Linked DNA regions of Homo sapiens: region 1 is linked to region 2. Evidence: fine-mapped expression QTL. A gene starts in region 2. The other region holds a variant in brackets. All regions are shown on one strand. Distances are between the middles of the regions.

The links. PIP is the estimated chance that this variant, and not a neighbour inherited with it, causes the effect.
Region 1: its variant is the best candidate, but not a certain one, in a credible set for the expression of SYN2 in esophagus mucosa (GTEx, PIP 0.69).

The regions. Positions count from the first base shown.
Region 1 is chr3:12,146,194-12,151,570 of GRCh38, forward strand. It overlaps SYN2 (synapsin II), which reads left to right. Exons shown (of 13, transcript NM_133625.6): 5 at 5,044-5,133. Among named protein-coding and RNA genes, the nearest start is that of TIMP4, 10 kb to the right of the region's middle. The variant A/G (reference allele first, on the strand shown) is at 2,275.
Region 2 is chr3:12,001,746-12,007,122 of GRCh38, forward strand. SYN2 (synapsin II) reads left to right here and starts at 2,643. Exons shown (of 13, transcript NM_133625.6): 1 at 2,643-3,183. The coding sequence starts at 2,807. RefSeq lists an enhancer at 3,342-3,842.

The sequences.
Region 1 (5,377 bases), 140 kb after region 2:
AAATGTCTGTTTCTTGCCTCCTAGAATGATTAAACTTTTGGAAAGGCCTGAGCCCAGTGACAACCAAGGGAATAGTCCAACTCAGGTAGTGACAGAGTCCTACCAAGTGGTTCAGCAACCTGAAAATGAAATTTATCCTCATGCATGTGAATCAAATACTTATGAGCTAGAAGTGTCTTGGAGATCATCAAAGCCTAACCCTAATTCTGACCTTAACCTTTCATGATAGAGATATGAAAATTAAAGAAGGAAAGTAAGGTGTAGAAAACTACTTACTATAGGATGCCAGTTTCTGAGATTTTTCTGTTAATTTCATTTAATCCTCACCTTACAAGGAAGATATCATTATTGTCACTTTTTACAGAGAAACAAAACCCAAAAAGGATTAAGTAACTTGCCAAAGTTACAGTGCCAGGATTTCTCTACATCCCACTGCCTCTCCCATAGATTGAGGCTCCTATATAAGGAGGAAACTGTTCTGGTTTTCTCTTCCTTGGCCAATTTGGAAATCTAGGAGGGCAGTGGAAACTTTTAGGCAGATAGAAAAAGTGGGGCTAGGAGGGAGAGTGACTTATGATGGCTTTGGGGGCACTCTGGCTTCCCCTCCGACCACTGAGGGGACCCAGCTCCTCTGCTGGCTCTGCTACTTCAGGCTGGCCCTCTCAGAAGGTAACACCTACCCCTAATCACATCCTCATTGGCTTGCAGTATGCAGGCCTCCCCTGCATCAACTCACTGGAATCCATTTATAACTTCTGTGACAAGCCATGGGTGGAAAGTGAGGCCCCCTTCCCCCAGGTAAAAGGCTAGGATCCAGACCCTGCATCTTCCAGGCCCCTAGGAGGGACTTCTGGACCCCAAGATGCAGTAAGCCCTTCTTGTTTTGTAAAAATGAAATTTCAGCTGTCACACGCCCTGGATTGCCAAGGTTCCTGGAACTTGTGTCTAATTGTGAAGTTTCCACGCCTTTACACCACTCAGAGAGCTGAAGAGGGGTGTGTGTGTGTGTGTATGTGTGTGTGTATGTGTGTGTGTTAACCAAACAGATCTGTCACTTCTGATCTTGATCTTTTTTTTCACCCTGGAACTAACAGCTTTCTTTTTCCTTTTGAAGCCAGGGAGAGCTTGGAGTGTAAGAAAAAGATCAATGGACAAGTAGTCAGGAGGGCTGGGAGCTGCCATGGTTAAGGAGGGGGTTGGGTTCCCAAGCTCCACTTGTTCAGCCTTTCCTTCTGCGTGGCCTGAGGCATCTGGAATCCTAGATTCTGCAGAAACACGCTAACAGAGTGTGATTTTAGTATGTTGCCAATCACAGAAGAGCATATGTGAGACCTTTACCAAGTGTCTTTTTTGTGGACCTCCCCTTTCTCCTCAGTCACATGTCCTTCCTACGGCACACGTGTCCTAACCCACGTGCACCCCCGGTACTTGTCAGAATTTGACTCTCTCCTAGCCACACAGGGTGATCCTGCTATTAGCAGCTTTTTCTGGGTGATTTCACTGCTTATCAACTCTCTGACCGAACCTGTGCCCCAGTTTCTTCATCTACAAACTGGGAATAATAGTAGCACCTGCCACCACTTTGACAGCCTGGTTGTTACAGGCTCCTAGTGTATGGGTTCTCTTAAAGAAATTTGTGGCCAGACGTGGTGGCTCACGCCTGTAATCCCAGCACTTTGGGAGGCTGAGGCAGGCACATCACGAGGTCAGGAGATCAAGACCATCCTAACTAACACAGAGAAACCCGTCTCTACTAAAAATACAAAAAAAATTAGCCGGGTGTGGTGGCAGGTGCCTGTAGTCCCAGCAACTTAGGTGGCTGAGGCGGGAGAATGGCGTGAACCCGGGAGGCGGAGCTTGCAATGAGCCAAGATCGCACCACTGTACTCCAGCCTGGGCGACAGAGCGAGACTCTGTCTCAAAAAAAAAAAAGAAATGTGTTCCCTGTTTTCTTTTCCTAAACTGTGCCAGAGGCCAGGGCAGGAAGAATGGGGAGAGCCTGTGGCTAGGGCTTTGCTCCTCCCGGGATCTGGGATCTGGTGAGGGGTCACACTCTCACCCATTCACAATCTGAGCACATTGCCTTGGGCCCTGCATGAGGAGAACAGCAGGGCTCCCTGGCCAGACCCCAAGTTCTCCCTTCAGTTTCACAAAGCAGCTGCCACATGAATGACGTTTTACATATTGTTCTCTGCTAGTTCATGGGAGTGGACAAATTTGGTGACTGTGAGGGGAGGGTCCCTTTCAGCTGATGACTTTGGGTTGTGTTTCTCA[A/G]TATCTTTACTATGACTGCTGTTGGTGTGAGGAGATACTTTGATTGGGTTGGAAAAGGCTCTGCCTTGCACAGCTGTGTCTCTGAGCACATTGCTGTCTCTGAAGTTGGTCAGGGCAAGCCACTGGGATTTGGGGAGCAGAAGTGGACCTGTCAATGAAAGCAGCATTCCAGACAAAGCAAGAATGGCACCACCGTTTATTGCTGCCAGTCTATCTGAAATTCCGTGAGTCTTTCTGGGTTTTTGGAGATAAGTGCACCAGAGTTAAATTAAATCATTTAATTTCCAGGAGTGATAGGCATAGGGACACATTACTCAAATGGATCTGGAATCCCATTTTTTTCCAAGAAATCTTTCTTGATTCATTGGATGAGTGGCTATAATGGACATATCTTCCTATTAATTGCCAACAGCACCCCCAGCTCCCAAATTCATTCTTTTGTCTATGTGTAGAGGTAACAGCCCTTATCAGATGTTACATTTGTTTAATTGGTGACTGTGTGGCTGTGATTTAATCTAAGTTTCCAGGGAGCTATGGGTTAGATGCCAAGCTCACTACCTTGAGCAGACAGGGACTGCTGGAGAGGAGGGTGGGGTGAGCTCCCTGAGACCCAACGAGAGCCTGGGAACTGGCTGCCATTATTGTGTTGGCTGTCCCAGGGCTCTGGGAGTCTGCCACAGGCTGTCCTGGCATCTGTGTGGTGTCTGTGTAACTCCCCCACATGCTGGAAAGGTAGGGCCCCACATGTCTTGGTGCCATGCCAGAGCGTGGGCTGCAGCAGGACAGAGGTCGTTTGGCAGAGCTGGCATTAACTCCCTAGGGATGCTGGAGAGCCTTAGGAGCACAGGCAGGTGTCCAGAGGCAGAGCAGAAGTCCAGCCAGGCCCAGATGGGCAGGCAGGACGTAAAGGTCAGATGAGCAGGTGTGGAGAATCAGAGAAGGCAGGAAAGGTCTGAGGGTTCGTTCTTGACAGTTAAAGCAAATTGAAGGACCAAAGTCGGTGAGGACAGCAGGGTACAATGGTGAATGCACCCAGCAAGGAGAAGAGACCTGAGTGCTCTTGCAGTGCAGCCCTGACTCCAGGATGTGATCCGGGAGCCTGCACTTTCCTTTGCTCTCCAGCCTCAATCTCAATTTGTCAAATCAGAGGGCTGGCCTAGAGACTCTATAAAGTCCCTTTTGACAATGGTATCTTAGGGGCTTGAGGGTCCATGAATCATCCTTTCAGTCCTGGAGGAGGCCCTAGAGCTCTAGAGTCACCAATTGTTTGTCACTAAAGGGAGGGACCTAGGAATTCCAGTGTTTTCCAGCATTTCAAAAATAACAAAATCATATCTATACCTACAAAAGGACCACAACAGATGATCACTTAAACTACAGTTTGATAGCAGAGTTTGGGAGGAAATATAATAAAGAGATATTCTTTATGGTACAAAGTTTGAGGAACTGATCAAATTTAACCATCTCATTTTATATATGAAGAAAATGAGATCCAGAGAGGAAAACTCATTTGCCCAAGGACACCTAGGAAGTTAACAGAACAAGAATCAGAAGATTCCAGTTTTCTAACAACCCAGTTCCGAGCTTTTACTGCCCCAACCTCGTCTCCCCTCCCTGGCTTATGTGCCAGTATCGCTTGTAGAGAACAGGACCTGAGCTGTTGAAAAATGTTCTAGCCTTCCTTTCTCTGATAAATAGATTTCATCTAGCAGCTTTCCCTTCTAGCCATGCCAGATACCAGTGGCTTCGAGTGTGAACTAATCCAGTAGCCCTAGAGAGATGTGTTTCCTCTGCTGCTGATGCACTGGGGATGGGAGTGTAGGTGTGTATGTGACTGGATTGAGCAGGAAAGTCCTGTATTTCCTGTGGAAAGGGCATAGTTTCTACAGAGCCTGAAAGGCAGCTACTTGCAGGAATAAGGAGAGTTATGGATTGGAAATGAAGGGGCCTTGCTGTGAACCTGGCTCAACTACTGTGTGACTTTGGGCAAGTGACCTCTCTGGGCCTCAGCTTCTTCATTTATAAGATGGAGCGGGGTGGGGGAGCCCAGGTGTGCACTAAGAAAGCCTTTCAACCCTGACACTGTAAGTATGTGTACTTTGCCCCTTCCCCATGGAGCTATTCCAGTTTCTCATATGTAGGCAAAGGGTCCAGTAAGTTCAGTCCCTCGTTAGGTAGTAAGTCCCAGAAAGACTGGGCCTGTCTATCCCACATACCATGACCATTCTAATCTTCCTGAAGAACAGCTTCATTTTATGATGCCTCCTGCTCAAATTCTTGGTGATTCCATACTGCTTACTGGAAAAATCCATCATTCCTTTGCCTGACGTTTGAACTTCCAAGACTTGGCCCATGTCACCTATCCAGCTTCATGCCTTGCGATCACTCAGAGATGCAGGTGTGGAAAGTCAGAGACCCAATTTTTGATCCCAGCTTCACCTTGCAGTTCTGTGACTATAGGCAAGTTTTGTATCCTCTCTGGGCCCCATATGTAAAATGAATATGATAAAATACTAGTTCATCAATTTGATTTGAAACATCATTACAATTGAGAAAGGTAATTGAATTTTAGCTCACTCTCTTTCCCTTCCCCAACTAATGCGTATCATATCCTTGGAAATAGGAATTGTACACTTCTTTTATATCCTCACAATGCTTAGCATAAAGTCCTCCACAGAGCAAATGCTCAATAAATATTTGATGAGTTGATGTTTCATCTGTTTCAGAAGTTATCTAAGATAAGCTGTAACATTTGCTTTTCTTTTGCAGTTTGCCCAGCTGGTCGCTATCTATAAGACACTGGGAGGAGAAAAGTTCCCTCTCATTGAACAGACATACTACCCCAACCACAAAGAGATGGTAAGTGGCTCAGTGGGGACATTAGTCTTTCTGCTGTTTTCATTTTGCACTTAGCCACCTGGTTATTGTGGGGCTCTGAAAAGGGCCTCAGCATCTCAACCCCAAAGACTCCACTGGGGTTGAACTATAGAGCTTATGCGGCTGGAATAACTAGATTTTAGCTGACAGCCTCTTGTCAAATTCTGGAGATAGAATAGGGAAAAACAGGAGTAAGGGCAGTTTAATCAAGCTGAGAGAATAACAA
Region 2 (5,377 bases):
GCATGTATTAGGCATGAAAACACGTCTGTTAATTGGTTGATTTTAAAAATATATGCATATACTATAAGCTTAACGGTTGGGGAAATTACTTACTGAAATATTATTTTAAAAAACCTATCACCCCCAAAATTGAAGTGACACAGTGTCTGAAATCCCTTCATTAGAGATACATGCCTTTGATGGCCGGACGTGGTGGCTCATGCCTGTAATCCCAGCACTTCGGGAGGCTGAGGCGGGCAGATCACCTGAGGTCGGGAGTTTGAGACCAGCCTGACCAACATGGAGAAACCCCATCTCTACTAAAAATACAAAATTAGCTGGGCATGGTGGTGCATGCATGTAATCCCAGCTACTCAGGAGGCTGAGGCAGGAGAAATGCTTGAACCCGGGAGGCGGAGGCTGTGGTGAGCTGAGATCGTGCCATTGCACTCCAGCCTGGGCAATAAGAGCGAAACTCCATCTCAAAAAAAAAATTTTTTTTTAAGAAGGGCAATAATTAAGTTTATTTAATTATGTTATTAGTGACTTATCAGTTTTATTCTCCAATAAACACAAAAACCGAGTTGGGTAAGATTACAGTTCAATTCTCAAACAACTGAGTCCTTATTACATGCCAGGTCCTGTGTTTGGTGTGAAGCCCAAAGATAACTAAGACATAATCCTGTCCTAGAAAAGCTTACATTCTAGTCACCAGAATATTGTATGATAGTTTCTTTGGGGTCTATGACAAAGCCAAGCACAGGATATGGAACACTTAGCCCGCCCTGGAGGATTGACGAAAGGCTTCCTGGAGGAACCATCAACTTACATACCTTCTCCATGCCTTCTCTGGCTGCCTGCCTGCCTGCCTTCTTCACTTTTCTACTGGTAAACATAGCTGCCTCAAGATCCACCTCAAATGTCACCTCCTCTGAGAGGCCTTCCTAAGTCTCAGAGGCAGAATGAGTCCCTCCCTCCTTAGGCCTCCTAACCCTCTTTGCCCAACTGTATGATAGCATTTCTCACATCTTATGTGGTTCCTGTGTCTATCCTCCCTCCATCCCCCAGCCCACATAGATCATGAACTTGCAATAGACAAGAGCCACTTCCCATTCATTTCAGCCTTTCCAGCTCTTACCACTGTGCCAAGCATGTAGTAGATAGGAAGACCACTGTGTTATTATAGTTGACTGGAGACTTCTCTGATAGCACCGGCTCAGAGCTGGATTGTGTATCTCTAGGCCCTGAGTTGAGTGCCAGCTGGGATACAGGAAGCAAGAACTGCCCACCAACATTAGTGACAAGCCACTCCCTGACTCCATTCAGCCCAGTACATACTTACTGAGAACCAATTGAAAAAAGAATTCAGGCATCACTACTGGAATACCTACTGCTGTGTACCAGATGCTTTACATACATGATCTCATTTACTCCATGTAACAACTCTGGAAAGGGTTACTTATTCCTTTTTATCAGCTAAGGAGAGAGGCTCACAGGGGTTATTGATCCAGGGTCACATATCACCCGGGGTAGTCTGCTGTAAAGCCTATCTGCTGTGTCCTGCTCCATTACAACACAAGGGAAAGTATATCTAATGAGAGATGAAAACTAAAGGTCCAAGAGTCACGCAAGATTTAGAGAGTGCACATGGGAAGGTGGCCATCAGAAATGTCTTCACAGAGGTCAAGGCAACGAATAAAATGGAAAAAACAAGTAGAAAGATCTTGAAGAGATGTCCTTCTTGGTATAGCACTGGATGCATCAATGCATGCTAGGAAAGAAACACGGTGGGGTTGGGGGATCCTTAGATATCCCTCTTGGGGTGGAGACCATGTCTCCAGTCTTCTCTTGGTTTTCTCTCACTGGTCAGTGAGGAGGGGGAGAGAAGTACATACTGTTGTTGTCCCTAGAAGTGCAGGAGTGAAAACACACCCCACCCCTCCTTCCATGACAGAGTAGAGAGGATCTGTTTCTCCCCTTTCCTCTCCCTCGCCTTGGAGTAAGGAGGCTGCCTTCCTCCCTAGAAGAGGTATTTCTTTTTTGTCTCACCATAGGGTGTGTGTGTGTGTGTGTGTGTGTGTGTGTGTGTGTGTGCGCGCGCGCGCGCGCGTGTGTGTGTGTGTGTGTTAGTAACAGCGGATTATTCCCTTCCCCCTCTTCTGGGGGCTGGGGAGATGACATCTTTCTCCCCAGCGTTGGGAAAGGAGGTGGTTCTTTTCCTCCTCACTACAGGGTGTTCGTGCTTGTGTGCGTGTGTGCGCGCGTGATTGGGATGACTCCTTTCGTTCTCACCTCCGCATAGGGAGGCTGACACCTCTTATCCTTCCAAAAGGAGTGGGGTCGGTTTCCTTCGCCTCCATTTCAGCTGGGACACGGCTCTTTTTCTCTCCAACCAAAAAGATGGTGGGGCCTCTGGTTCCTTTTCCTTCCCCTGGGGAGAAGGCCTGGCTCCCACGCCCTCCCCGCATAGTCACGCTCAGGTTGCTGGAGGCCTGGGTCGCCCCCTCCTGCAAGCCCCGAGAGTCGCCAGACGCGCGGCTAGGTGCCCTCCGTGAGCGGGGCGGGGCCGCCTCTGCGGCGCGGGGCGGGGGCTATCTCTGGCCCCGCCCCTGCCCCGCCCGCTCCCTCTCCGCGAGCCTCGCGCCGCGCGGGTTGCCTGGCCCAGACCGCCGCTGCTGTCTGCGGGGTCTGGTGCCGGGGCCTGAGTCTCTGCTGGCTAAGCCGCCGCCTCAGCCGCCTCAGTCGCCTCAATCTCGCCTTCCGCCCTCGCTCTCCCTCCGCGCCACCAGACCCCGTAGCCCCGCGCGCCCCCAGCCCTTTAAGCCAGATGATGAACTTCCTGCGGCGCCGGCTGTCGGACAGCAGCTTCATCGCCAACCTGCCCAACGGCTACATGACCGACCTGCAGCGGCCCGAGCCCCAGCAGCCGCCGCCGCCGCCGCCCCCCGGTCCGGGCGCCGCCTCGGCCTCGGCGGCGCCCCCGACCGCCTCGCCGGGCCCGGAGCGGAGGCCGCCGCCCGCCTCGGCGCCCGCGCCGCAGCCCGCGCCGACGCCGTCGGTGGGCAGCAGCTTCTTCAGCTCGCTGTCCCAAGCCGTGAAGCAGACGGCCGCCTCGGCTGGCCTGGTGGACGCGCCCGCTCCCGCGCCCGCAGCCGCCAGGAAGGCCAAGGTGCTGCTGGTGGTCGACGAGCCGCACGCCGACTGGTAGGTGCCGGGCGCCGCCGCCCTCGGGGGTCGGGGTCCGCCGGCAGCCGCAGGCCAGGAGAGGACGGTCCCAGGTCGCCGAGGAAACGTTTCAGACCAATAAAAAGGAGGGTCCCCGAGGTCCCGCTGGGAGGAGGTGCGGGCTGAGCGCGCGCGCGTTTGCGGGGTGAGGGAGGGCATCCATCAGCCCGGAAAGGCGAACCCAAAGCTAAAATACCCCTCAATTGCCCCAGGTCCCCCAGGTCCCATACAAGAAGGAGCTACTTTATGCAACAGGAAAGGCCCTTAGGAAATAGTTTTTTTGGGGGTAGAGGAGGGGACACACTTGTTAGCTTAGACACATAAAATCTGAAGTGAAATAGTCCCAGGAGGCCGAAGGAACATTTAGGGCCAGTAAAAAAGGTTTAACTTCATGAAGCACGGAGTGAATTTGGAATGGAAATTGGTATTTTGGAGGGAGAAGGTGGTGGTGGGTTTTTTTTAACCAGGACCCATGAAGGCTGATATCAAGTATTGACATCAGGTTGATGAAATCACACATGTAGTGGCCCAGGTGTACACGGGCTTGTTCCCCGGAGCATGGCTGAAGTCTCTTTATGAATAATAAAATTGTTGTATTTTGTGCAGCAGGGAGGGGACGTGTGGAATTTTTTTTTTTTTTTTTTGATTGCTTGTTTTTCTGAAATGTGCGTGGTGGGGGGCGGGGCGTGGAAGTGAATGGTAGCTTTTTCTAGCTGAAAGATGAAGACCTTGGTAAAATATACTGGATCATTAAAGGGGTACAAATAAAAGGAGACCTGCCTTAATGTAGTAGATGGGAAACTTCAATAATTTTTTTTTTCTTCTAAAGAGATAGGTAGCATGTTTCCAACTTAGAATGGTGAAGGCTGCTGCTTGGTAAAAGTACGAATGAGGTCCACTGAAGACAAATTAGTTAAAAGCGGCTCTATTTTATAGTTAACCTAGGGAATGGTGGGATGGTGAAATTGATAGGTGAAGGGCTTGGAGAAATGAAGAGGCCGAGAATCTGGGGGTGCCTTTTCTCCAGGAATGTGAGCAAGGGTTTTGTTTTTTTTTTTTTCTCATAGGGGTTGAGGTTGGAGACTGGACCTGAGTGTTCTTCCCAGGAGGGGTGCACAGAGAGACCACAGAGCTATTTCTCTCCATTTCCTCTTTTGGCTGCTTCACTGCTTTCTCTCTCTAGCATTCTCTCTTTGGGAGACCCAGAGGGAGGGAGTGCTGGCGTGTGGGTGTGGTGGAAATGAGATGCAGATGTGGAGATGCCCTCCTGCTGGCTGCTAATGTCACCATTCTGAATAGTCCTTTGGGTGACTTATGTGGTTGGCCTTTTCAAGAGAGTAGAGTAGAAAATCCGAAAGGACTTTTGCCAGGAAATGACAAAGGCACATGGAAGAGGGTAATGGGGAAAGTGTAATGCATATGATAGTGCCACTGGCAGCCCTCCTTAGAATTACTCTGACTCAGTTCATATCAACAAGTGCTTATTACGGAGGAAGGGAAGGTAACCAAGCTAGTAAAGGTGCTCAGTCAGAGCATCCATTATATGCCAAATGCTGTACTCTCAGCATGATATCTCATTGCATTTTCTTCACAAAACTGAGGCTTAGGAAAGGTAAGTAATATGTTTACAATCATGTAGCCAGCAAGTGGTAGAAGCAGGATTTGAACTTAGGCCTGTTTGACTCCACTGCTTTCATTCCACTGTGTTATATTGCCTCACTATTATTATTAGCAATATTAATAACAAGCTCCCTCTAGGCAGTGTGGGGGCCTTTTAAGAGAACTCACTCAAATTGGGACACAAAGTGGATACATGAAACAGTTAAAAAGAAATCTAGAATTATTGGTTGAGACTAGTGTTTCAGGCAGTCAACAAATGGAGTGGTTAGTGAGAGCCAGAGTTATTGGAGAAAGCTTCACAAAAGATGAATCTTGAAGAAAGGCCAAGAAAAGGAAGAGGAGAAATGAGAATGACATTCGTGCTTTATTTTTCTGTGCAGGAATTTGACCCTTCTGTACCTTGTCCTGATTTCTTATCCTATTAAATGCACTTGTTTTGAGTCTTATTGCCAGTTAGGTATCTATAGATAGGTACTGATACTTATTTGTATGGGTATGATGAAGCTGCTGCAGATTTCTGTTTAGTTATAAATGCTTCTGTAGCTTAAGATTT